Linked DNA regions of Homo sapiens. The protein of the gene in region 5 interacts with the protein of the main gene of each other region in a pairwise test. Each region holds a gene or a part of one and is shown on either strand. Other genes may lie near its edges. The genes, in order: FADS2, STAC, PHLDA1, P2RX7, NBPF19, FAM221A and TMIE.

The links.
Region 1: the proteins of NBPF19 (region 5) and FADS2 interact in a two-hybrid assay, tested with the Homo sapiens proteins (one large-scale study listed by BioGRID).
Region 2: the proteins of NBPF19 (region 5) and STAC interact in a two-hybrid assay, tested with the Homo sapiens proteins (one large-scale study listed by BioGRID).
Region 3: the proteins of NBPF19 (region 5) and PHLDA1 interact in a two-hybrid assay, tested with the Homo sapiens proteins (one large-scale study listed by BioGRID).
Region 4: the proteins of NBPF19 (region 5) and P2RX7 interact in a two-hybrid assay, tested with the Homo sapiens proteins (one large-scale study listed by BioGRID).
Region 6: the proteins of NBPF19 (region 5) and FAM221A interact in a two-hybrid assay, tested with the Homo sapiens proteins (one large-scale study listed by BioGRID).
Region 7: the proteins of NBPF19 (region 5) and TMIE interact in a two-hybrid assay, tested with the Homo sapiens proteins (one large-scale study listed by BioGRID).

Annotation. Positions count from the first base shown.
Region 1 is NC_000011.10:61,862,800-61,866,299, reverse strand, and holds part of FADS2 (acyl-CoA 6-desaturase), read right to left. Parts: intron 3,329-3,500; coding exon 3,231-3,328; intron 3,019-3,230; coding exon 2,922-3,018; intron 2,594-2,921; coding exon 2,514-2,593; intron 1,149-2,513; coding exon 1,023-1,148; intron 663-1,022; coding exon 611-662; 3' UTR 1-610. UniProt on the Homo sapiens protein: Involved in the biosynthesis of highly unsaturated fatty acids (HUFA) from the essential polyunsaturated fatty acids (PUFA) linoleic acid (LA) (18:2n-6) and alpha-linolenic acid (ALA) (18:3n-3) precursors, acting as a fatty acyl-coenzyme A (CoA) desaturase that introduces a cis double bond at carbon 6 of the fatty acyl chain.
Region 2 is NC_000003.12:36,481,504-36,485,003, reverse strand, and holds part of STAC (SH3 and cysteine-rich domain-containing protein), read right to left. Parts: intron 2,013-3,500; coding exon 1,912-2,012; intron 28-1,911; coding exon 1-27. UniProt on the Homo sapiens protein: Promotes expression of the ion channel CACNA1H at the cell membrane, and thereby contributes to the regulation of channel activity.
Region 3 is NC_000012.12:76,024,947-76,028,535, forward strand, and holds the end of PHLDA1 (pleckstrin homology-like domain family A member 1), read right to left. Parts: 3' UTR 501-3,589; downstream 1-500. UniProt on the Homo sapiens protein: Seems to be involved in regulation of apoptosis. May be involved in detachment-mediated programmed cell death. May mediate apoptosis during neuronal development. May be involved in regulation of anti-apoptotic effects of IGF1.
Region 4 is NC_000012.12:121,131,605-121,135,675, forward strand, and holds the start of P2RX7 (P2X purinoceptor 7), read left to right. Parts: upstream 1-1,271; 5' UTR 1,272-1,366; coding exon 1,367-1,491; intron 1,492-4,071. UniProt on the Homo sapiens protein: ATP-gated nonselective transmembrane cation channel that requires high millimolar concentrations of ATP for activation. Upon ATP binding, it rapidly opens to allow the influx of small cations Na(+) and Ca(2+), and the K(+) efflux.
Region 5 is NC_000001.11:149,478,045-149,481,544, reverse strand, and holds part of NBPF19 (NBPF family member NBPF19), read right to left. Parts: coding exon 3,498-3,500; intron 2,666-3,497; coding exon 2,451-2,665; intron 1,404-2,450; coding exon 1,331-1,403; intron 867-1,330; coding exon 661-866; intron 1-660.
Region 6 is NC_000007.14:23,700,175-23,703,150, reverse strand, and holds the end of FAM221A (protein FAM221A), read right to left. Parts: intron 2,366-2,976; coding exon 2,283-2,365; intron 1,056-2,282; coding exon 987-1,055; 3' UTR 501-986; downstream 1-500.
Region 7 is NC_000003.12:46,700,041-46,704,191, reverse strand, and holds the start of TMIE (transmembrane inner ear expressed protein isoform 1 precursor), read right to left. Parts: upstream 2,801-4,151; 5' UTR 2,705-2,800; coding exon 2,612-2,704; intron 1-2,611. UniProt on the Homo sapiens protein: Auxiliary subunit of the mechanotransducer (MET) non-specific cation channel complex located at the tips of stereocilia of cochlear hair cells and that mediates sensory transduction in the auditory system.

The DNA.
Region 1 (3,500 bases), on a different chromosome or scaffold from region 5:
CGGGCCTGGGGCCCTGGACATCTTAAGAGAGGCCTCGGGTACTTAACCGAGCTGCAGGAGGGAGACCCGAGCTTTGTAACAAAGCAGGCCTCTCTATGAAAGGGTGGACCAATGGCAGCCGTCAGGGAGAGTGAAGCCAGGCCGGGAGGGTCAGGGGCCCTGCCCGACTAGGACCTGCCCCTATGAACCCCAAGAGCATCTGAAGAACCAAAGCGGGGGTGATGCCTAGTGACCAGGCTGCAAGGGGAGACTCACAGGCCAGACCCATGGACCGCTGGTCTCCTCCCATCTTTAGGGGCAGAGAGTGGAGGTAGGACAGAGCCACCCCCGGTGGCCACCTCTCTGCTCCTTGGAAGAAGGGGCTAGGAGGCACTGGGAGGGCCATGGCTGATGGCTGACGGCTGAGGGAGGGCAGGTCCCATGAGGGCAGGGTGCTATGGGGGAGATGTGAAGAGAAAAAGGAGAGGAGAAAGGGAGAAAGATCCAACATGGGGTCCGTGAGCAGTGCATACACCAGCCTCTCGGACACCCCTCAGAACAAAAGCCCATCATTCCTCTGGCCATCACCCCACCTGCACCCCTTCCCCACGGTGTCCCGGGGGCTGTGGCTTCATTTGTGAAGGTAGGCGTCCAGCCACAGCTTCCCAGACTTCTTCAGGGACCTGCAAAGTTGGGGATGGACCAGGGTCAGGGACCAGGACGGGAGTGGCCCCAGGGAGTGCAAGGGCTGAGGAGGCCATCATTAAGGTGGCATGTATGTCCCCTTGGCCCTAACCAGGGCTTACCACTGCCACTGGGCCTGTGGGGCTGTCAGCTCAGAGCCCACCAGGAACCCCACACAGAAAGGGATGGTCTTCTCGCAGCCCAGGGAGAAAAGCCCAACAGCTCCTAACACAGGCTCGGGAGTAAGGCAGGTGCCCTGGTGGGTGACTGTGCCAGGAGGGCCCAGCCCCTCTTGTGATCCCACTGTCTGCACCACGGGTGATCCCAGGGCCCAGCGCCTGTGGACCTCCACCCCTCACCTGATGATGTCCAGCAGGGCCCTCAGTAGCGGCTTCTCCTGGTATTCAATGCCATGCTTGGCACATAGAGACTTCACCAGCGGGGCGATCTTGTGTAAGTTGTGCCGGGGCATGGTGGGGAAGAGGCTGAGGAGTGTGTAGGGTGGGCAGAGCGTGAGGACTCAGAGGGCCATGCTGCTCCCGCTTCCTCCCACCACCTGGGCAGAGGCTGGCTGGGGCCCTCAGAGACCCTGTCCACAGCCAGGACCAGTCTCAAAGTGTGGCTCCTCGTGTGTGCCCAGTGGGGTGCCACGTGTGTGGAGGGGAGGGTGCAGCCCTCCGTGAGCAGGAGGGCGTTTGTGCTCTATGGAGCTGGGAAGATATTGGGTGGCCAGAGACAAAGTGTCATGTTTTTCAAAAAAGAAATGAAATAGCTGGGGAATGCTAGGAAAAGAGGCAGTGAGGTGAGGCACGGTGGCTCACGCCTGTAATCCCAGCATTTTGGGAGGCCGAGGCAGGCAGATCACTTGAGGCCAGAAGTTTGAGATCAGCCTGGGCGACACGGCAAGACCTCTTCTCTACAAAAAATAAAAATAAAAAATTAGGCCAGGTGCAGTGGCTCACACCTGTAATCCCAGCACTTTGGGAGGCCAACGCAGGTGGATCACTTGAGGCTAGGAGTTTGAGACCAGCCTGGCCAACATGGTGAAACCCCGTCTCCACTAAAAAATACAAAAATTAGCTGGGCGTGGTGGCACACGCCTGTAATCCCAGCTACGTGGGAGGCTGAGGCCTGAGAATTGCTTGAACCTGGTAGGTGGAGGATGCAGTGAGCCGAGATTGCGCCACTGCCCTCCAGTCTGGGCAACAGAGTGAGATTCTGTCTCAAAATAAATAAATAAATAAAAGTAAAAAAAAAAAGAAAAAATTAGTTGGGCATGGTGGCACGCACCTGCAGTCCCAGCTACTCAGGAGGCTGAGGTGGGAGGATGACTTTAGCTCAGGCGTTCGAGGCTGCAGTGAGCCAAGAAAGCACCACTGCACTCCAGCCCAGGAAACAGGGTGAGACTCTGTCTCTACATTTTTTATTTTTTAATAAAAAAAAAAAAAAACAGTGACAAGAGGTGAAGCAAGGACAAGGGGCAGCAGGGCAGTCCCTCGGCCGATGTTCCAGGCAAGCTACGTAGCCCTGCCCTGCTAGCCTCACAGGGTCATGAGGTGCGTGTGCAGGCTCCATAACTACAAAGTCCCAGGCCCACATGGAGGGAGGTGGTAACCACTATGACCAAGTGGCACAGCATGAGGGGCACAGGATGACCCTCAGGGAGATGGAATAGGGGAGCCCCTCTCCTGACCTCAGCGGGGCTGGCTGGGAGCCTTGCTCTATATTGGGCAGAGACCTTGTCAGAGAGACAAAGAGGTGGCCCCCACATTCTGCATTCTGCCCAGTGGGATAGCGGCCACTTCCCTCCCGCTGTGGGTCTCCCCGCCTCCCCGCAGCCCCGCGCTCACTGGTGCTCAATCTGGAAGTTAAGGTGTCCACTGAACCAGTCGTTGAAGAAGGACTGCTCCACGTTGCAGGTGGCTGTCAGCTGTCAGTGGAGGGGATGAGTGTCAGGGAACAAAGGAAGGCCCAAGGGCCCGGCCTCATTCCCAGGGGGCCCAGCCTTACCCAGGGTCTCCAGGCCACCCGTCCACATCATACCGTCCTGCCTGATGGCCTCAGCCCACCCAGATGCCCCACCTGTCCCTCTGGGGGATTCCTGCTGCCCTTTCTTGCTCAGCCCTGAAGCTCCCAGCAAAAGGACACAGGCAGCCCCGGGAGGCCCAGCACAGCCCTGTGTTAGCAGGTGCAGATCATCTGGGGCCAGGACATGGACATTGGGACCAGGCTCTGGTGACCGGCCCTGACTTCCCTACCTGGCTACTGAACCAGTCACGGTAGGCCTCCTGGTCAATCTCCATGACGATGTGATTCATCTGTGTGACCCACACAAACCAGTGGCTCTCCAGGAACCTGCAAGAGAACACAGCTCAGCGCAGGGGCCTCCGGGGGCCCAGCCACAGTGGGAACAGATCCACTCTCCCAACCAGCCCAGGACAGCCCCTGCCAAGGGGCCAGGATGGGAGGTCCCCAGGCAAAGTGGAGCCGTCCGAGCCTCTTCTCATGCCAAAGCCATCATCAGTGCCAGTGGAGGGCCCAGGGATGAATCAGCAAAGCCCAGGCACCTGATGAAGTTGAGGAAAAGGAGGGCTCCCAGGATGCCGTAGAAAGGGATGTAGGTGATGAAGAACCGGATGTAGTAGCTGACGGCCCAGGCCAGGTCCTGCGGGGAAAGATGAAGTTAGGTGCAACCTGCCCTCTCCTCTGCCCTGGCACCAAGTGCGTGCCCCAGATGTGCACACACCTCACACTCAGGCCTCTAGAAGCTGGACCGCAGCCCACTGAAATGCAATGGGCAACTACACGCCACCTGCTTGCTCGGGGTTTGCATGGCT
Region 2 (3,500 bases), on a different chromosome or scaffold from region 5:
GCTGTAGTAACGCCGAAACCCCTTTGGCTGGAGAGAGAATGAGGAAGGCAAGGGGTTAATGTCACTGGAGATGGAGAAAACCATACAAGAGCTCCCTAAATAAAACCAATTGGTTTCTCCAGGAGCACCCTCCTGTCTCCCATTAACATGCCGACTTATCCTATAATTCCACAATTTAATCCCAGCAGGGACACAGAGGCAGGGAGGAATAGTGGCAACTAGCAAGTTACACTCTATCCAGAAAACAAGGTCCTGGCCCTGGCCTCCCCAGTCGTGTCTGTCCTCCTCCTGCAGTGCACTGCAGCCTCCTTTGCATCCCAGATCCTCATTGCCTCCTGGATTACAAGTGGACTGCCACATATTATTTCACCACAGTTTGTTATTGTGGTTTGTTAAAATAATATAAATAAAAGGCCTGGGCATGGGTAAGTGGACCTCAGAGGGAGGCCTAAAAGCTCCTGTATATCTGAAGAGCTTTAGCCAGAATCATTTGCTCTGTAATCTGGATTCTATTCTCTGTTTTTCTGACCTCTCCTTCATGGTCTGTCTTGGCTTATGGGAATCACCACTGGAGAAGGAGAAGGGGAAGCAGGGGAGGCAGAGGTTTGAGAAAAGAGACATTGCAAATCAGAGTAAATAGATAAACTAAGAACCTGGACTTGACTGTACTCCATTACTGGATGGGAACTTGGTGGCCCAGTCCCTTCTAGAATTCCAGAATCCTGTCTAATGTTCCTGGAAAGTGGTGTCCCTTGTCGTTACACTGTCAGTGATGGGAGGGGGTGAAGGAGCATTCACTAACCCTGGAAGCAAGACATTATCTTTTATTGTTAAGACTTAGTATCCACTGATCTTAGGTCTTTCCCCAGGAGCCTCAAAGGACAATGGAGTTACTCTTCTAAATTTTAGGTCTAAAATTGTTGAAGACAGCTGTTGATGTCCTGTCTAATTATTCTCTAGGGTAGACATTCTTCGTCCTTTCTACAATTCTTTGGCCATCCTAGTTTCAAACACCCTCAAATGCGCTCTGGATTGCTTTTTGAAAAAAAATTTTTGAGACAGGTTCTCACTGTCACCCAAGCTAGAGTACAGTTGCGCAATAATGGCTTACTGAAACCTCTGCCTTCTGGGCTCAAGCGATCCTCTAATCTCAGCCTCCTGAGTAGCTGGAACTACAGGCACACACCACCACACTCAGCTAATTTTTAAATTTTTGTAGAGACAGGGTCATGCCATGTTGCCCAGGCTGGTCTCGAACTCCTGGGCTTAAGGGATCAACCCACCTTGGTGTCCAAAGTGTTGGGATTATAGGCGTGAGCCATTGTGCCTGGCTTGAATTGCCTCTTAATCAATATGTGGCACCAGGACTGAAGCCCATCCTCCTGAGATGGTATGATCAGCCATCTCAAGGGCCATTCAATCTCCCTTGGTTTGGGAGATTCTGTTAAAGTGGTGCAGATATTTATTACTCTCTCCTCTTTTGTGGGGGCTTAGCTCTTGTCCTCTCTTGCTACCCACTGAGCTGACCACCAAGGAAGCACTAGAGTGACCAACCATTAGTTTGCCTGGGACTTAGGGGGTTCCTGAGATGCATGACTTTCACTTTTAAAACCTGAACAGACCCAGGATGTGGGACTTTCAGTATTAAAACTGAGAAAGTGCCAACCTGGGAGAAGTTGGTCACTCTGTTAATGACCCTGACTCCCTTTCAAGGTGGGGCATTGTTGATTGGGTTGACAAAGCCCTTGTCCTTGTTTTCTGATTACGCCAATTAGGAAGCCAAGCTGGCAGCCAGTTCTGGGGTGCTTTGCTCAGGGTTTCAGGGAAGGATTTTGGAGGGGGTGATCTCACTGCAGCAGGCAAGTGCCCTAGCAGAGAGGTGTGGGCCTCACTCCTGGCACAAGCCCTTACCAGCTTGCCCATGCACCGCTGGGGTGCCAGGCCATCTGTGCACTTGTGGTGGATGCTCATCTTACAGGCTTTGCAGCGCAGTCCATGCTTAGCATTTGTTCCTGTCAGGTACATGGCAAACTTTGGTTAGGATACAACCTGCCATTTCCTGCTGATTAGTCTAAAATCACAGAAAATGAGGTTCCCCAGGTAATTCTTTCCTACAACTTTTTCATGAAGCTTTCAAAATAGAAAAAAAATATATATGGTAGATTCTTTTGCTTTCTCCTGCATTTTCTACCTAAGGTATACACTCTGGTTTATCTCCATCTTTCCTATTCACTACTCCAGGAACTCTAAGCCTCCTCCATGCCCTTTGTTCTCTCAATTCAAGCTAGTGAATTCCATTTTCTTTGCTTTTCATGTAGGTTACTCAATTCTACTTTTCTGTGTCTTACTGAGTAGTGCAAGTCCCGAAATTTGATGTATTTTCTTCTGTATTTCTATCACAGGAACTGAGCCGTTGGATAAATTCTCAGGAAAATGACTGATTAAGGGGGAAGGGCAGGTCTGTGTGAGAGTGGGGCTGACAGTCTTCTAAAGAAGGGGAGAGAGGACTCAATCAGATGCCAACCCCAGCCTGGGGAAAGAGGAAGAAGATGCGAATGATAATGAAATTGTGGCTGCGGTGAGTCACTTAGCTTCTTGGGACAGGGTGCTATCATGGAGTGAGAAGAAAGAAGGCTGAGAAGAAAAGGCAGAGAGCCATCCTGGTATCTTCATGCACAAAGGCCCAAGGCAGGAGCACTGGAGAGGAACTGGGAGGCCTAATAAGAGGGCAGGGTGTGGGGGCTTCAGGAAGATGGCAGGTGCTGCACACCGGTGTTCATTATTTCAGAAAGTGGCTGGATAAAGCTTAAGACGGATGTTAAAATGGGTGTGTTCTGCCTTCATCTAGTCACAGACAAGAGAATGCCATCTGCTCTGATATCCCAAAGTAAGATGGTAGGTTCCCAGGCAAGTCTCAAAAAGGTGCCAAAATGTATTTTTGCCACTCTTAGATGACCAAGCATCTCATGTATTAGAAAAGAGGAAGAAAGGTGAGGTAGTGGAGAGAGTATTTCTTTGCAGAGTTGTTGAGGCACTATCAGTCTTATCCCTCCTCCTTTACCATGATGAGAAGGATGGGGTGTGCTCTGTTGTCTCCTCAGTCCTGAGAGGGTTTCAAGGAGACTATTTTAACAGCTTGACCTATGTGAGTCTGTGGGACATATGGCTGTGGCCATACCCATTCTTGGAAAAAACTAAAAATAAGAGACGTGGGTGGCCAGGGGTCCTGTCAGCCTACTGAGGAGACAGCTGTGTGAACAAGGCCTGCACTCCAAAAGATTGTTAGGAAAAGGGTTGGTGAGTCCAACAAGTATGTGATTCTCATGGATCAGATATGGATTATGTAGAATGCTATGCAAGATGACAACCTGGAGAGACAACAGGATTTCAACAAAGTAAGTCTCTTTAGAGGGGAGATACAGGAATGAATATGTCCAGGTAGTATGAGACATGAAGTCAAGATACCCCACTGTACAGCACAGCCATCCACAGACCCAAAG
Region 3 (3,589 bases), on a different chromosome or scaffold from region 5:
CCTATTTTAAAGTCTTTTGAGATTTAAAGGCTTTTAGATGCCAGTGGAGATTGTAAGAATAAAGTTATGCTATTTTTCTTTAAAGAATCAAGTCCCTCTTCTGCTTTCAACACAAAATAGGAAGGTCTATGAATACCGTTTGAAGGATGACTCAGAGACAAAGCTTTACCCTCCCAAGAGACATAAGAGAACTAGACTACCTCTGGGACTCAAGAGGGTATTGCTGTTGAGCTGATTCACTAGGAACTGTTTCTGGTCCTCTGGGAAACTATGGAAAATTCAATTAAAGTTCATTAGCATTCTGAAAGCTAATTTTTTCACCAACATACCTGAGCGAATTTTCATATTCCAAATTCCCAGTGAATTTTTTAAAAGATGAATTCCCAACCTCAAAAATGGTCTTTTTTTTTCCCAGAATGCCCAAGCAATTCAGAATCTCTGTTTCACAGGAACACACAATGCATGTGCCAGTTGAACAAGGCCTTCAAAAGGTCCACAGGTCGGTTGTCTCAATAGATAACTTTATTTGAAATGAAATGCATTTTGAAAATATGAAAAATAAATCACATCTCCCCAAAATCATCTAAGAGACATATTTACACAAGTTCTGACCATGCTAAAAAATTCATGAATGTGATGGTGTATAAAGCATTTGGTACATGATGATACTTGCTTTCCAGAAGCTGGCATTTGCATATTATAAAACGTTAAGAAGAAGGCTGACCTCGGAATGTAACAGACAATAGTTTTATGTTTCTTCTCAATATACAGTGACCTGGAAGGACTCCCTGTTGTTAAAACCTGCTTCCCCACTGCTCAGCCTGCCATCAGCCATCCAGCTGCAGAGCAGTGGAGAGTAGGTCTCACCAGTTTTTGTGCAGATGCTTCTAACCCAGAGTCCTTCTGCTTACTTCATTGGACAATATTGCCCTTTCTAAGAAAACCCTTTTAGATCCTGTACTCCACTTAGCAAATGCCCTGCCAGCAAAGTCACAGATGACTTTTTTACCCAATCTTAGGTAAATCTGGATTATCTGCCCAACCGTGCAAGTCAATAAGCCACCCTTGAAAACTGTGTCAAGATTTGAGGAAACAGGTCTTAAGAACCTATCCAACACATGATTCCATAACCAATACATCTTAGGTTGTTTTAGGCAAATAGGTGTATCTCTTGAATCACTGATGGATTCAATATCAAGATCTATAATTTTCACGTTTAAAATTTACTCTGCCGAGGACATTTTATTGGTAAAGCAAAAACCAGTTAGTTTGACACACACGAAAAAGAAAACAAATGTTCACAGTCCTATCTTCGTAGGATTCTGTGCTATAAAATTGCTCCAGGTTCAAGTCTTAGACCACTCTTCTAAGGCTGCTACTGAATATAATATTAACACTGGAGCCAAGCTAAAACTACATGACTTTTCCCCTAGGGACAGAAAACAAGGGATGTGTTTGAACTCATACACTTGCAGCAAACTTTACTGTCAGATATAAAATTAGGGCTTTCTCTTAAAGGGCTTCTTTAAGAGAAATACAGAGTGTTTGGTATATGAGAGAAAAAAAGTTAAAACAGGACTTTCAACTTAATCCAGACTTCCTAACAGTGTTTACATGTGAGGGAAACTCCTTTAAGTAATGCGTAGTTTTTATTTTTACCATCATTGGAGACAAAAAAAACAAAAACATAAACATCTGAAGTGAAATTATAAAGATGGCTTGATTTCTACATTAGAGAATCCCAGCTTGCTCAATGAGGAAAATGTTCATTTTAAAAGGGCCCCTTATAGACATTTGCTCTTTGACGTCAGCACTCCCCATAGAGCACACCCAGATCTAAATGGATTTCCACTAAGAAAGTCTGTTTAAGAAACTTCATCATGATGTTTAGCCTGTCCCAGAATTCATTGTTCTCAGGGAATGACATGAGAGCAAAGAAAAGGAACACTCAGTGAGGCAAGAGACAGCATCTCCCAGATGCTGGGAAGTTACACATTTTGTCCTTCCTTCCTTTGTCCCAACAGTTATTGAGCTCACTGTGTATGAGGCTTGGTGCCAACACAAGTTCAAGGACAAAAGTTCAGTTTCCAGATGGAACATTACTCTTAATTTTCCAACTTTTTACATTTTATGTTTATTTAAGGAGCGGGTCTTCTATTGGATCTGCCCTTTCGGTTGAAAAATGCATTTTTTACCTTTTTCCATGAAGCTGATTTGTCAGGCTTCAAAATATCTTAGGTGGTTTTGTATCATTTTCTTACAGGTAGAATAGAGCCACTGGGACATTAAATGATGTACATTTATATTTTGTTTTGTTTAGTCTTATTGAGCGTGTTTGCTTTTTTGCTCTGGAAAAATTATTAATAATAATTTCAAAGGTGTCAAAACAATAAAAGCCATTCTACTTCTAATTTCTTAGATTTCACATTAAATGCTAAGAGGGGTTCAGAATAGAAAATGATAAAGGTCAACATAAATATCACAGCAGACTAAGGAACAAGGGCTACAGAAAGTCAAGAAACCATTATTCTGGGGCCGGGTGTGGTGGCTCACACCTGTAATCCTAGCACTTTGGGAGGCCAAGGCAGGTGGATCACCTGAGGTCAGGAGTTCGAGAACAGCCTGACCACTATGGTGAAACCCCATCTCTACTAAAAATACAAAAATCAGCCGGGCGTGGTGGCATTCACCTGTAGTCCCAGCTACTCAGGAGGCTGAGACAGGAGAATGGCGTGAACCCAGGAGGCAGAGGTTGCAGTGAGCCGAGATCGTGCCACTGCACTCCAGCCTGGGTCACAGGGCGAGACTCCATCTCAAAAAAAAAAAAAAAAAAAGAAACCATGATTCCGGTGGCCCTATTAAGAACCATGGCCACCACGGGCGAAGAAAAAGAAATCCAGCCACCAAGAGGGAGCCTAGGCGCATCTTTTTAAGCAATGAAATTACCTAGCCCCATATGTAAGCTAACAACATACAAATGCCTTTTTTAAAACCTACATCAATCTTAATTTGTAAAAATATTTGGTATGGATTTTTTTTTTTTAGTACAAGAATTAAAAAAAAATCCTCCATTGGGAAAAAACTGTGGTTCATTTGGAGCTATTATGATTTGCATGCATTAAAAATATAGTACTATGAGGTACTCCTCAAAAAGTACAGCCACAGTTCTAAGGAAGCTGAACCAAACTTGATTTAAGAAATCTTTAGATGTGGCTCTCATTTCATATACATATATACATACATACACATATATACATATTCATATATGTGTACACACATGTTCTCATATATGTATATATACATACATATTCATATATGTGTATACATATATACATATGAAACAAGTTTTTAAATGTTGGCAGCATATTTTCACAACTGCAACCTAAACAACCACTGGAAGTGGGGGTCCACTTAAGTTTTGTTTGCCATTAGCTTAATAGGGGAAAGCTATTTTAATTTTCCCTGCAACTTTTTGGATATGAGTTATGATCTCAAAATGTCATTTAACTATTGCACTAAAAAGTAATTTGACCTTGGAACTCCTTTCTAGATGGAAGGAGAATAAAGACATCTGTAGCATGTAATTCTA
Region 4 (4,071 bases), on a different chromosome or scaffold from region 5:
AACCCTGATGCAGTTTGTATGTGTGAGAAAGTACAATTAGTTTAGACTGAAAAACTGAAAATCTACCCGGCCACTTAGCAGGCTGGAATAACAGAAAGGGATCAAGCCAGCTGTAAAGATAACAGGGAACAATAATTCTCTGTAGCTGTAAAGTGATAATACAACCCTGCATCTTTGAGTGACTGCTGAAACATTGTCCTTTAAAATCAGAGACCTTCAGAAACTTTGCTGTTTGAAATTACATGACTAAGACTGAAATATTCCAATTTTGCCTGGAAGATTTAAGTCATCTTGACACAGAGAAGCAGCCTCAATTTACAACTCAGGAGCAGAGCTTCAGATAAAGATTTTCTGGACACATTTGACATGTATCTTAGCTATGTTGCTTCCTAGGAAACAGGGCCCTGGGTCCTCTTTGCAATCCAGACTGAAGTTGACTGCTTTGTACAAACCTGTTTTGCTTTGAGTCCATCAAAACATGACTTCATTTAGATTTTATCTCAACTCCACTTTCCTCGGAATCCTATAATAAATTGCTGTTTTCCTTTGTTTGGTGATGTGCGTAGCTCTTCTGGTGGGTGGTGTCCCTCACTGAATAGGTCAACAAACCTAACTTTGTTGGACTGCCACTGTGTCCCTGGTGATCTTTGGCTGATTGGTCTAGGTCATAGATCGACCTGCCGGGGTGCAGAGGAGGGTGGAGAGTAACTCAGAGGGTCAAGCATGAAAGATCTGGCAGAAAAATAAAGCCCCTCCACCCCCACCACCCCTACCCCTGCAAATCTGATTTCCCCCACCAACTGCAGACCAGAGTATTATAAGGGGCGGTGGAAGAAGAGGGGGAGATCTTCATTTACCCAGAGCTCCTATACATCAGGGGCTGAATAAAGGGTTGTAGAAATGAATGAATCAATCTCTGAGTGGGGCTTCAGGCAATGGAAAGATCTCAGTCCTTTTCTGAGGCATAATGGAAGCTCCCAGTCTTGTGACATTTGCAAGGCTGCCCCTTTCTCCCAAGAGACATGAGACCAAAAAAGTGAAAGGAAAGGGGGGAAAAGGGAGAATTCTAAAAATGCCCATCCTCTGAACACCATCTTTGTGTAGGCATCTGGGGGAGGCCAGCTGGGGTGAGGTCATCTGCCAGCCAGGCCCGTAGGACTTGGCGCTTCTTGTTTATCACAGCCACATGTGGGGCCACTGCCAGGGCCCGCCCCAACTCTGCAGTCATTGGAGGAGCTTGAAGTTAAAGACTCCTGCTAAAAACCAGTACGTTTCATTTTGCAGTTACTGGGAGGGGGCTTGCTGTGGCCCTGTCAGGAAGAGTAGAGCTCTGGTCCAGCTCCGCGCAGGGAGGGAGGCTGTCACCATGCCGGCCTGCTGCAGCTGCAGTGATGTTTTCCAGTATGAGACGAACAAAGTCACTCGGATCCAGAGCATGAATTATGGCACCATTAAGTGGTTCTTCCACGTGATCATCTTTTCCTACGTTTGGTAAGTGGGATCTGGGGAGGACCCAGATCTCTGCAGTGGCCGACAGCACAGAAAGCCCCAGCGGGCAGCTTCAGGTGCACATTCTGAATCTCACATGGTTTTCGAATCTGAGACGTGCTCTCACAGCCAGCTGGGCGGGAGGGAGGAAGCAGCAGCAGGCAAGAGGAAACGGTGCCAGGCTGCAGCAGAGAGAAGCCACAGGACAAGCGGGATTCCTTTCTGCTCTACTTCAGGCCCGCCAGGGCGCGCAGGGCAGGGCGTGCCTGGGGAAGGTAGGAAAGCGCAGGGCAACACCCTGGATCCCCAGGGAGGAGGCGAGGATCTCAGGGCACGCCTGGTGATCATGCTGGCATCTGAGTCACCATGCTTGGGAGGAATAGGACCAGGCTTGAAAATGTGTTATAACTTTAGGTCCTCACCAACGTCAGGAAGGCCCTGCTTTTTGGTTTTTGTTTCTTCTAAAAGAAACTTACTGAGATATAATTTATACACCATACAATTGACCCATTTAAAGGGTACCATTTAATGATTTTCAGATTATTCCCAGAGTTGTGCAACCATCCCCACAATCAATTTTAGAATATTTTAATCGACTCAAAAGGAATCCCACACTCCTTCACCATCATTTCCAACACTGTTCCTCCTCCTTCCCACCCATCAATTTCCTTTCTGCCTCTATGGATTTGCCGATTCTGGACATTTCATATAAATGGAATCACATAATATGTGGTCCTTTGTGGCACTTAGCGTGTTTTCAATGCTCATCCATGTTGTAGCATGTGTTGATACTTCATTCAATTTTTTTTTTTAAAGAGACGGGGTCTCACTATTTTGTCCAGGCTGGTCTCAAACTCCTGGACTCAAGTGATCTGCCTGCCTCGGCCTCCCAAAGTGTCAGGATTACAGGCGTGAGCCATTGCACCCGGCTGATACTTCATTCCTTTTTACGGCTGAGTAGTACTCCATTGCATGGATAGACCACTTTTTTCTATCCATTCATCCATTGATGGACATTGGGGTTGTTTCTCTTTTTTGGCTATCATGAATAATGCCACATGAACATTTGTGTACAAGGTTTTATGTGGATATATATTCTCCTTTCTCTCGAATATGTACCTAAGAGTAAAAATTGCTAGGTCATATGTTAACTATGTTTCACCTTTGGGGGGAATGTGGAGCTGAATTTCACAGCAGCTGCAGTTTTTTACATTCCTATCAGCAGAGTATGAGGGATCCAATTTCTCCACATCCTCACCAACGCTTGTTATCGTCTGTCTTTTTGGGTTTTGTTGTTGTCATTTTGTTTTTGTCTTTGAGATGAAGTCTTGCTCTGTTGCCCAGGCTGGAGTGCAGTGGCGCAATCTTGGCTCACTGCAACCTCCACCTCCCCGGTTCAAGCGATTCTCCTGCCTCAGCCTCATGAGTAGCTGGGATTACAGGTGTGCGTCACCACTCCTCACTAATTTTTGTATTTTTAGTAGAGATGAGGTTTCGCCATGTAGGCCAGGCTGGTCTCAAACTCCTGACCTCAAGTGATCCGCCCACCTTGGCCTCCCAAAGTGCTGGGATTACAGGCATGAGCCGCCACGCCCGGCTGATTGTCTGTCTTTTTTATTATAGCCATGCTAGTGGGTGTGAAGTGGTAGTTCATTGTGGTTGTGATTTGAATTTCCCTGATGGTGAGTGCCTCTTATTCTCTGTGCTGATTGATAATGATGATGAAGGCAATTTGTATCTATAGAGTGGCAGTGTAGTTTACTAAGAGTTAGGGTAACTTATTTCATAGTACTGGCTATGTCTTCTGGGCCAAGTCATTAACTTCTCTGAGCCTCAGTTTCTGCATCTGTTCATAGGGTTGTGGCAATTAACCAAAAAAAAAAGGCATGAACAGCCCTTATCATGATGACTGACATAGGATAAGAGCTCCATAACTAGTATCTATTTTTAAAAATAATCTTTTTAAGTCTGGGAGTGGTGGCTCACACCTGTAATCCCAACACTTTGGGAGGCCAAGGCGGGTGGATCACGAAGTCAGGAGTTTGAGACCAGCCTGGCCAATATGGTGAAACCCCATCTCTACTAAAAATACAAAAATTAGTGGGGAGTGGTGGTGCACACCTGTAATCCCAGCTACTAGGGAGGCTGAGGCAGGAGAATCGCTTGAACCCGGAGGCGGAGGTTGCAGTGAGCCAAGATCAAGCCACTGCACTCCAGCCTGGGTGACAGAGCAAGACTCCATCTCAAAATAATAATAATAGTAATAATTTTTTTGATTATATAATAGTATATATGTATATAAAATACATGTATGTATTTTTATCTATATCCTCTGCTCTGACCCTCAAAGTAACCACGTCCAAGTTCAGGATTTGAAATCTGGAAACGTGGATTCAAAAATCCTTCACCTCTTTGAGCCTTGGTTTCATCATCTGTAAAATGGGGAGAATTGTTGATAGGAATATTAAATGAACTAATAAATGCAAAGCTGTTTGAGAAATATATGGCATATAGTAATCCCTGATTAAGTGTTAGTTCTTATTATTAATAATGCTATTATTAGGATTATTATTATTCGATTCA
Region 5 (3,500 bases):
GGTGCCACTGCACTCCAGCCTGGGTGACAGAGCAAGACTCCATTGCAAAAAAAAAAAAAAAAAAAAAAAAATCCACGATGCTACAAAGAAACATTGGATCAGCCATTGCATTGACAGGGTGGAGAACCAGGGTCCAGCCTTGCTTTATGGAAATATATCAGCAAAGTAAAGAAGAAAAGTTTCCGTCCTGATTTCAGGGTGACTGTGCAGCTAAGCAAGCTGACTTAAAGGAGATCCAGATGAAAGCTGAGAGCAGTGAAGCCTGGGGAACAATATTTCCAAATACAAAGGCAAGGCTGCCAGCTTCCTTAAACAGGCATAGAAACTCCATGGACATTGTTCAGGGACAGATGACTTAATCACAGATGACAAGAGATACTGAATCGAAGATAGGAGGCCTGACAGATACTGCCTGTGCACCTCCTGCACTCAGGTGACTATGAGATTGTCACACTTGCCTGGGGTTGAGTAACTTGATACTGGGGACTGGCAGACAAAGTCATGACATTAGCTGAGAAGGACAAAAAAACTCCCTGATATCTGTTTAGAAACCCATCACAGTTTTTTATTCAAATGAATTTGTGTTTATAGAGCCTGTCTTCAGAGTTTATCTTTCTCAGCCTAGAGAGAGGTATGAGACACAAGGAAAACAGAGGCTACCTGGAATAATGTGTACAGCATCCTCCCATTCAACATGAGAGGATGAGCCAATGAGAGTTGAGTCGACTTTGTCTTCCTCAAATGTGATTTTGGTTTTCCTATGTGGCTGGTTGGAGTCATAAGGGCCATGGCTATTTGAATAAGTGATGGCACATTCCTCCAGTGAGTCCTCAGGGACTTCCTTTTCTTCAGCCTTCTGCATCTCCCTGATGAGCCAGGTGGGACAGAGATGACAGAAGATTAAACACAGAGGGATTGGACCCCAGGGAGTCCTAGCTGGTTTTGACAGGCGGCATTAAGAGAGTGGTCCCAGAAAGCAAAATGGAGGTTCCCATTAAGAGGGAACATGCAATCCTGTTCTCTCTGCAACAGAGCATGGCTGCCATGGGAACCAGAGAGGAAGAGAGCAGCTGCTGTTCATTGCACTGGACAGATAGGAGCTGAGGAGGATGAAGACTCAGCTATCCCTGTAAGGTGCAGACATGACACTCAGCACACATAGAGAAACATGACAGCTACCGCACCCTGTGTCTAAGCTGGATTATATTTCACATACTGTGGCCAAGCGAATGCGGGTTTTTGGCCCATCATAGATGCCAGAGAGGGTGTGCCTCCTAGATATTCCTCATATGTTACCATCCATTAATTGTTCCTGAGTATTCAGTGTTACCTGGGGGCAGACGATTTCTGCACTTTCTCAGCCACCTCAACTTGAACATCTTCATCGTCATCGTTGTCATTTTCTGTAAATACAGAAGTGTTCGTTCAGATATTTCCCACTTCACAGTCTGCAAGCACAGTCAGCCCAATGTGCAACAGAGACATGAACATCTAGGCATGGGTCACCGTTCAACTGAAAACTCTCATGTTTTATCTTTAACAGAATGCCCTGCCATGGTTTCCTGATCCATCAGGCAATGCATTTCTGATCTGGAGGGCCACCATCAAGATGTGGCCAAATATTGAAAAGACCTTTTGCTTCCCATATCACTGGAGGCTTGTGCAGCCTCTCTCTGGACGTTGGCAGCTGTCTCCCCCATCCTGCCAGATCTGATTCCCAGGCACAGGCTTGGTGTCCTGTCACGGTTTGCATTTCAAACCTCATTCTTTCTCTTAGGAGAGGACAAACTTGTCCCACAGTCCTCTATGCGTCATGAGACTGCACAGGCCCTCCATGTGGCTTCTGCTGTGTTATTCAGGGACATTCTATCCATGGGGAGTGCTCCAGTCTGAAGCACTTCCTACCACCAAATGCCCCCACATCAAGTGCCTTCTCCAACACCACATGGAGAGGGGCTTCATCTCATTTTGAAAAGCATTCGTAAGTGTTCCCATATTTGGATGCTTCAGACCCTTGCAAGAGACAATTTGTCTGCCTTTGCAGATGGAGAGAGAGAAACTCTGAAAAGATAAATCACTCACTGACACTTACTAAGAACACTGCCAAAAATACAGCCTGGGAACCTTCATTCTTAGCCCAGAGCTCTTTTCACTCCAACAAGCGCCCTTCCATCACAGCCTCCTTCCTGTCCTTTAAAACTAGATAGATGCTGCCTCTTGCTCCAAAGACCACCTTCCATCAAGGAAGGAGGGACACTTGCAATACTGTGACCTCCAAACCCATGGGTTTCCCATCTCTGTTCTTACCCAGGAAGTCCTGATCATGTCATGGCCACATAGGTGTAGTAGAAAAAAACCCCACTGATATAACTGTCATTGTGAAAGTATGGAGGTCTGGAGCCTCTCATAAGCCTGGGGTTTTGGGTCATCAGGGCCTATGGCCACCTTACCTGGGCTGAGCTTTTGGACAAGGTGCTGTGCCAGTCTACACCCCTCAGCCAGCTGTTCTTGGAGGTCCTGCCCCTGGGACTTGTCCGGCTCATCCGGAGTGAGGAGGGCCTGGAGATGCTCATTCAATGAGCGGGAGGCATCTCTCCCTTCCCGTAACTTCTCCCTTAACTGGGTCAGCTCTCGTTCCTGAGAGTGAAACAGGACTTTATATTGCCTAAGGTGAGACGGTAGAGAAAATTTAAGAGTAGAAAGGGTTGAGTGATCCGTTCAAATATTGCAACAGAGACTTCTGAGACAATGTCCTCAAGGAGACCTCCAAGCAGAAGGTCAGCACATGTTGAAAGGAATGACTGTGGCCAAGAGGAAGAATAGAAAATGGTCTACAGGCTTTCCCTCTATCAGAGAGGGCTCCTGCAAGATCCTCGATGATGTTCCATTCATCTTTCTCTTCTGTAAACAAAAGTAGGTGTCTTCCTAATTCCGTTTCAAAAAGACATCCTTTCAGTTCCTCACTCTGGCCATGGACATTTCCATGTGAAAATACACATAGTGCATCTTGCGGCCACTAAATACAAAGCCATGTACAGAAATGAGGCCAGGTGCAGATGGGGCGAATTGAAAAGATGAAAGAAGAAAAGAAGGACAGGGTCAAGAAGGCAACATTGATTGAGTGAAAGAATGAGAAGACGCAGTCAGTCAGGAGGTGATTCTCACTAAGGGTAAGTGGGGTGGTGATAGCACACCATTTTGATTATACTGAATGCTGCTGGGTGGTTCCCACTCCTTTGGTGAATTTTGTGTTATGTAAATTTCACCTCAACAATTACTTGTTTGAAAAAGAGAAAACAAGGCTCTAAGAAACAACTGCAACACAGAACTTATTATTATCCTTGTTCACTGATAAATATTTGTGTGTCATGAGCCTGTCATGGCAATTTCTGCCCTTCCCCTGGCCCAGCTTCGTTCTTATTTCTCCCCGCCGAGCTGCTGTACTTCAGAGATCTACACACCTACCCGCCTGCCCTCCCCCCACGGGGTCCCCTCACCTG
Region 6 (2,976 bases), on a different chromosome or scaffold from region 5:
TATTGAGTTGGCCACTGCTATGGGTGACTGGAGCTCAACGATAGGACTTTCTGAGGAAGTTTATGAAATGCATTTCAGAATTGTCTTCCCAACAGACGGGAGAGCACTTATGTATTGGGCTTCCACCTCCCATTAATCAAGAGTGGCCCCAAAGTCACTAGCTCCCCAACATCTTTGGGCTGCATATGTATCATACAGTGGGGTTCTAGTGGGCATCCCAAGCCACAGTGTCAGAAGATCCCTGCAGAAGGAAGCAAGAGAGCCATGACATGCGCCCAAGACAAGGTGCCATCAAATGGCTTCCGCTATCAGAAGCCTGCTGGAAAGTGTTCCACAGCAGTAATGGAGTAAGAAACGGGGCCAAGAGGATTTGCAGTGGCACACAAGATGTGTCCAGTACAGTCATAGACAATGGGTGGTTGACAACACAACGTAAAAATCAGTAGATATCTTCAGCCTGAGAAAGATTGAAAAAAAAAATCAGTAATATCACTAGAAAATGGTTGTAAAATTTTGAGATAGTTTTTATTTGAAAACATAACATTACAAAGTTTGAAAAATAAAAAAATTAATGATTTTAACTATTTTTTTCTTTTGTTCTCTTGTTTTTAACTTACTATTTTGAATGACAAAAAAATGGCTCATATGTTTGTCCAAAACCCTTGATAATATCTTTAATTTTTTAAATACCTGAAACAGTTAAATTATTATGTACTAAAAACATTTACTGTACTCTCAGACAGACTCATATAAAATAACCTCATTTGTCAGGAGAAAGAAAGGTACATACAAAGTAGTAAATTATGAGTTTTGACAAAAGTAATAGGCATTTTTAGTTATTTAAATAAATTAAGGAAACATCCCAAAAGACATTTATACAGTAAAAAAAAAAAGTAAATAATTTCAGGAAAAATAAACTGTATTATTACATTTAAATAAACATGAAAAAGATACTTGGATGATGGTTTTAATTTCTCCAATAGTCTTCATGAAGGTTTTGTAGCTGATGGCAATGGAGCTTTTCCTTTCCACTTAGCAGCCTTTTCCATTTTCATCTGTAAATTTAACATATTTATTGATATAATAACTTGTAAACCATTCTAAAGAAAAAAAACTTGCAGAAAACTCATTCAGATTCATGTCACAGCCATTCCACAGTTATTAAGCTGCTAAATACTAAAGCCAAAATCTGTTAAAGGGACATAATTACACATTTTCAGATGGTTTTATTTTAATTTTACAGAAGCATTTTAATAAAAGTAATATATGAATATTGCTTTAGAGAAAACAATTTCAATTGCCACTAAAATTACAAGTGCTTAAAATGACTAAACTTACATCCAGCCTATGCACATTCCCTACAGAGTTACATAATGCACCTAATCCAGCTGGATTCTCTCTGGAACGTGGACTGCTTTAAGGATAGTTTTCTATAATTCTGGTTTCTATATTCCCACAGTTACCTTTCTGAAAGTCTTTTCCTCCTCCATTGTAGTTAAAGCAAAAAAGCAGCCACTGTGCCCAGATGTGTATTGGGTAATTTTAACGAGTCTGGATACACCTAAAAGCCTCTAAGAAGAATAAATAATACATATTAAGAATTCAAAATAGGCACCAGGCGCGGTGGCTCATGCCTGTAATCCCAGCACTTTGCGAGGCCGAGGCGGGTGGATCACGAGGTCAGGAGATCCAGACCATCCTGGCTAACACAGTGAAACCCCGTCTCTACTAAAAATACAAAAAATTAGCTGGGCATGGTGGTGGGCGCCTGTGGTCCCAGCTACTCGGGAGGCTGAAGCAGGAGAATGGCGTGAACCCGGGAGGCGGAGCTTGCAGTGAGCCGAGATCGCGCCACTGCACTCCAGCCTGGGCGACAGACCAAGACTCCGTCTCAAAAAAAAAAAAAAAAAAAGAGAATTCAAAATATATTCAATCTTTATTTGGCAAATATTTTTAAATAAAAAATAAAGGTACATGTATAAAAAAAGAATTCAAGATACATATAATTTACAAATCTGCTGATATTGATGTTTATTACTGACAATTTTATCTGCGTATTTATCCAATCTTTATGGCCTTCATAAATCAACCAGTGTATTAAATATCATGTTATTCTTTAGCCCTGTTTCTGTGTATTCTAATAAGCCTCAAGGCCTAACACCAACTGTAAGTAAAGACTTTATAAATTATTTTCAAGGATGTTCCACATTCAATGTATAATCATTCTAGTGCTTTTGCTACAAGTAAATGCTTAGTGCAACTGAATTTCCTCAAAAACCTACCCTTTCCTGGTATCGTCTTTCAAAGAAAGCCATATCATCCTCTTCAGGTCTCCTTAATGAAGAAACTTGACTACTTGTACCTACTAACAAGGAAAAAAAATCTAAGTAATGTATTTATATCATTACATATTCCCCTGAAATAAAAGAAAGAAAAGTTTTCTCCTGCTCGGTGATAATGTTTTATTTTTCAAACCAAAAATGGCCTAAATGAATAATTGGTCCTACTACCTCATTCTCTTTTAGAGAGAATGGCATCACAGGACAAAAGTGTTTTTCACTAGCAAACATTCTCCAAATATTCCACAGTTCATATTAAATAGCACCATATAGCTATTCCGTATAAGAGTACACTTAGTTTTGTCCAACTACTTTTTACATTTTATAACTAGAAATCCATGTTACACTTTGAGATAATGCACAAAAGTAATTATTGAGGCTTGGTATAGGCAACCATAAGTAATGATAGTACCTGCTTCAAAATCTTTCAAAACTGAACTATTTTATCCATTTTTTACGGTAATCACTTTGTCAAATGGATCAAGCACTAATTTATATGCTGAAAGGAACTTTTGAAATTGCTTCAGTAGGAAAACATCTGGTTTTCTTGGCAGGTAGCCAAGAGCCTAATTGCATAGAAAAGTACACCTTCATTGCGAGTGAAGGTCTTCACTGGGTCCCTTCATTTCCAAAGCAG
Region 7 (4,151 bases), on a different chromosome or scaffold from region 5:
GTCTAGGGACATGGTCCACCCTGGGTGTCTAGGGGACACGGTCCTGCCCTGGGTGTCTAGAGGACACAGCTCTACCCTGGGTGTCTAGGGGACACAGTCCTGCCTAGGTCTGAAGGGACATGGACCCACACTGTAGAATTTGAGTAAGATCTGTCCCTGACCAGAGATGGATATGACCCCATGTCTGTCACTTAGTGTGGCTGAGGGACAGGGAGAGGGGTCTGTCCTCTGAGGGAGAGAGAACCCTGGGGCATATGAGCGAGATGTTGTGCACTGATTACTAAATAAGGACAGACACGAGAAGTCCCTTCTGGTTCTCTGAGAAGAAAGGCAACCTGTAGTTCGACCATCCAGCCCTTCTTCCCCCAGGTCCGTAAACATGGATTAGGCATCTGTCATGAGCCAGGCGCTTCTTCATCTAGTGAATGCCACCCTTCAGCGTGGGTTGCAGAACTCAAGAGAGGATCAGCAACCTGTCCCAGGTAACCCAGAGGATCTGTGGGCTGGGATTGGTACCTGATTCTCAGGCTCTTTTCTCCCTGCCAGGGTGAGCTATTGACAAGAAGACACCATTCCTCAGTACTTTCCCCTGGATATATGTGTGGGGTCAGACATGTACATAAAGTTGGGGAACATGTGTGAGGTTGGGCACATGTGTGGTTGGCATGCATGTGGGTGTGGTCAGGGACATGTCTGTGCCATTAGGGTTAGGGCCCTGATGGTGGCAGCTGCCCTAATTCTAAGGCTCAATGTGTTGGCCCGGCTGGTTGTATGACTGGAAGACTCTGAGGGCCATGGCAAAGTTCTCAGGTTCTGAGCCAAGGCAGCTCACTTCCTACACATTCTTGCCCCAGCCCTGATGTGGGTGGAGCTGGGCCTACTCTTACTGATAGGGGTCTTGGGTGGACGGCAGCAGATGACAGCTGGTCTTCTCCTCATGTTGGGCCCTGCTGGGGTCTGATTTCTGGAGCATGGAGGTCCCCACCTCCTTCAGAGCCTCACGGGCTGATGGAGGGTGATGGTGACCCACACAGGGCTAAGGTGGGTGGTGACATGGCCCCCAGCCCTGCCCATGTCTTTGGTGCTTCCGTGAGGGAAGAGCTAAGGCCTTGCTCAGACTGTAGGCAGATGTCAGGCAGATGGCCTCCAAATGCAATTTCCCTAGAACTGGGAAAAGATGAGTTCCTGGGGGTGAGGGAGAAGAGTCCTTGGCTGAGAACTGACTTAACCCCCACCCCCAGCTTTCTGTCTGCACCTAGGCCAGCTCAGTTTCTGTACCCAGGCCTCAGGGCAGCCTGTGAGGGGCCCAAGTACGCCTCACAGGGCTCAAGCCAGCATAGCTCCCCTTACAGGGACACTGGAGCTGACACCTGACTCTAGCCCAGCCTTGTGGTCATGCCCTCTGGGCAACAGCAGGGACAGGCTACATCTGGGTCCAGGGCTCTGTCCCTATGTCCCCATCAAACCCTCCAGTTCAGGGCTGTGTCCCCCCATAACAACTTCCCCATGGCTCTGTCCTCTCTATCCCACACTGTCCCCAAGCCCCCACCCCTCAGGACTTCCCTGGGCACCTCTCACTGCCTCTTGCATTTCTGTTTTCCTGCTCCCTCTGGTCCGCCCCTGCCTGCACAGCCTCCATCCCCTGCTCCTCCCTGGCCCTGGCTCCTGGGCCTTCTCCCTCTGGCCTCACAATTCAGAACTCTAGGTCTGGTCTGCCAGCTCCCTCGTTGGCTCCCCTTTCAGGCTCCGCAGGAGTGGGGTACAAGGGGGTTAGGGAGGCTACAGATGGCCCCACCCTTCCTGGCCCCAGCCAGGCTCTCCACCAGGGCTCTCCCCCAGCTTCTGTGCTATCTCAGCAGCTCCTCCCACCTCTCCCACTGTGTGCCTGCTCCCAATTTACCCTCCTTCCAAACCAGAACTCATCATGACTTGTCCCTGAGCAGAAACCTTCTAAAGCTCCCGGTTATCACCAGGACCAAGTCAGACTTCCCAGTCCCTAGGTCCTGCCCTGCCTGCCCCTCTGGACCTAGTGCTCCACATAGCTTCTCTGTAAAGGGTCTCCTCATCCTGCTGCCCCCACCCTCCAACTTGGAATGCCCTCGTCTCCATCTTAAGGCTATGTCTCCCCCTCCATTAGACAGGGGTCCCTGGAACATCTCTGGAGATAGAGGCTGTTGCCTCCAGAAGACCCTAAATTCAGGGTCTGTTCCATCAGACTAGAGGTCCAGGAAACCCAGGGCTGTGCACCTCCCTGCCAGTGAGACCAAAGGCTGGAGGATGGGGGCCCAGTATCCCCCATCAGTCTGGGCAGGGCTGTGTCCCCAAGTCAGGCTGGGAATCCCTAAGGTCAAGGTGAGTCTCCCCCGTCAGACTAATGTTCCAGAAATCGGGTACTGTGCCCTTCCATCAGACCAGGGACCCTAAGAGTGGGGCTGAGTCTCTCTCACAGCCTGGCAGGGCTTGGGGCAGGGCTGCATCGCCCGGGAGACTGGATCTCTCAGGGCAAGAGTAAGGGATCAAACAAGCTCCGGATCAAAAAGGCGTCCCCTCTCCCCCAGCCCCCTGCCTGGAGGGTGACAGCCTCCCCAGTCCCTCCGTGCCGCGGCCTCACCTCCACCAGCTGCCCGGCAACCCCCGCGAGGCACACCCCGAGTGCGGCGCCGCCCAGCACGCAGAGGGGACCCGCGCCCGGCCACCCCGCCATCTTCGTGCCACCGCGCCGCTTGCGGAGCCCAGGGACGAACGGGCCGGCCGCCGGTCACTGCCCCTGCCAGCCGGCGCTCGGTGGCCACGGGCTTTGGCCACGGGTAGTCAGCGAGCATCATTTATTCATCCTCGGTGTCAGGTTCCCGCGCCGCCCGCCCCCGCCATCGCTGCGGTGGAGGGCCCGCCCCCTCCTTCCCGGGAGATCGGGCCGCAGGCTCCCCCTCCCTGCCCCCACCTTCCGCATCCCCAGGGACACTGAGGTGGGGGTGGGCGGGAGGGAGGACAGGCTGGGGCCAGGTCCCTAATCAACAGGTCCCCCTCCCTTCTGCAAATGGGCCTCAGTTTCTCCATCTGGGACAAGGGGGTGGGACTGGAATCTGCTGATCTAGGAGGCCCTTCCCATTCTGTCATGCTGGATTTGAAAAATATACTGGATTTGAGTTTGGGGGGGGGGCAGAGCGGGCAGGTTGCCATGGTGACAGGCGCTCAGGGATGTCCTGGGCTTTCTGGCTTGGCTTCCTGCCCAGAGGCGGCTCTGGTCACCCTGGACACCAGAGCTGGAGAGCAGGGGATGGTATGGTCAGAGCTGCCAGCCGGCAGTGTTATGGAGGGTTCCAGAAGAAGCCAGCATCTTCAGCCCCACAGGACAGAAGTGGGCTGTCCCTGGAAGGGCTGGAGGACCATTTTCTGACCCTGGCTGCCCTCAATCTCTGCCCCAGCCTGAACACTGACTCTGACTTCAGTCTAAGCCAGGACCCTGACCTCATGCTGAAGTTGACCCACACTGCACTCTGGCCCTGACCCCATGTTGAGCCTTGACAACTGAGGGACAGAGGGAGGTTCTGAGGAGATGTAGAGACCTGGGTGGGGGCTGAAGACTTAGGAAGAGGAGTGGGGAGGCCTGGAGTTGGTAGACTCCCCTTCCCTCCTTTTCTTCCTTCCTTCTATTCTTATTTATCTCCTGCTGCTGAGTGTTAGGAGAAGCAGCCCAGGTGTTGGGCCCCTGGAACCCTTATCACCAGGGGCACTGGTGAAGGCCTGCGCAGGCTGGGGATGGCCCAGCAAGGCCTGCCCTGAGAACCAGGGAGACCCTGTGGCTCCAGAGCCCTGTGAGGTTCTGGCCTGGACATGCCATGAATGGGCAAGGACCACAGCAGGCTGCAGCAGGGAGCGGAGGGCCACCTGCGGTCACCTGCCAGTGTCAGGGCCCGGAGATGACAGCCAGGCAGGAAAACGAGAGCTGTTGGAGAAGGACTGCAGCCCAGGAGACCCATCGAGGAAACGCTCAACAGTGGGAGGTAAAGTCTGGGGACTGAGTGGGCTGGGCCACCCAGTCCTCCCCAGGCATGCCCTGGCCAGGCAAACAGGAACTCTGCTAAAATCCAAATCACTTGTTGCAGCACTCCAATCCCCACTTCCTCATGCTGCTGGTCACAGGCCAGGCT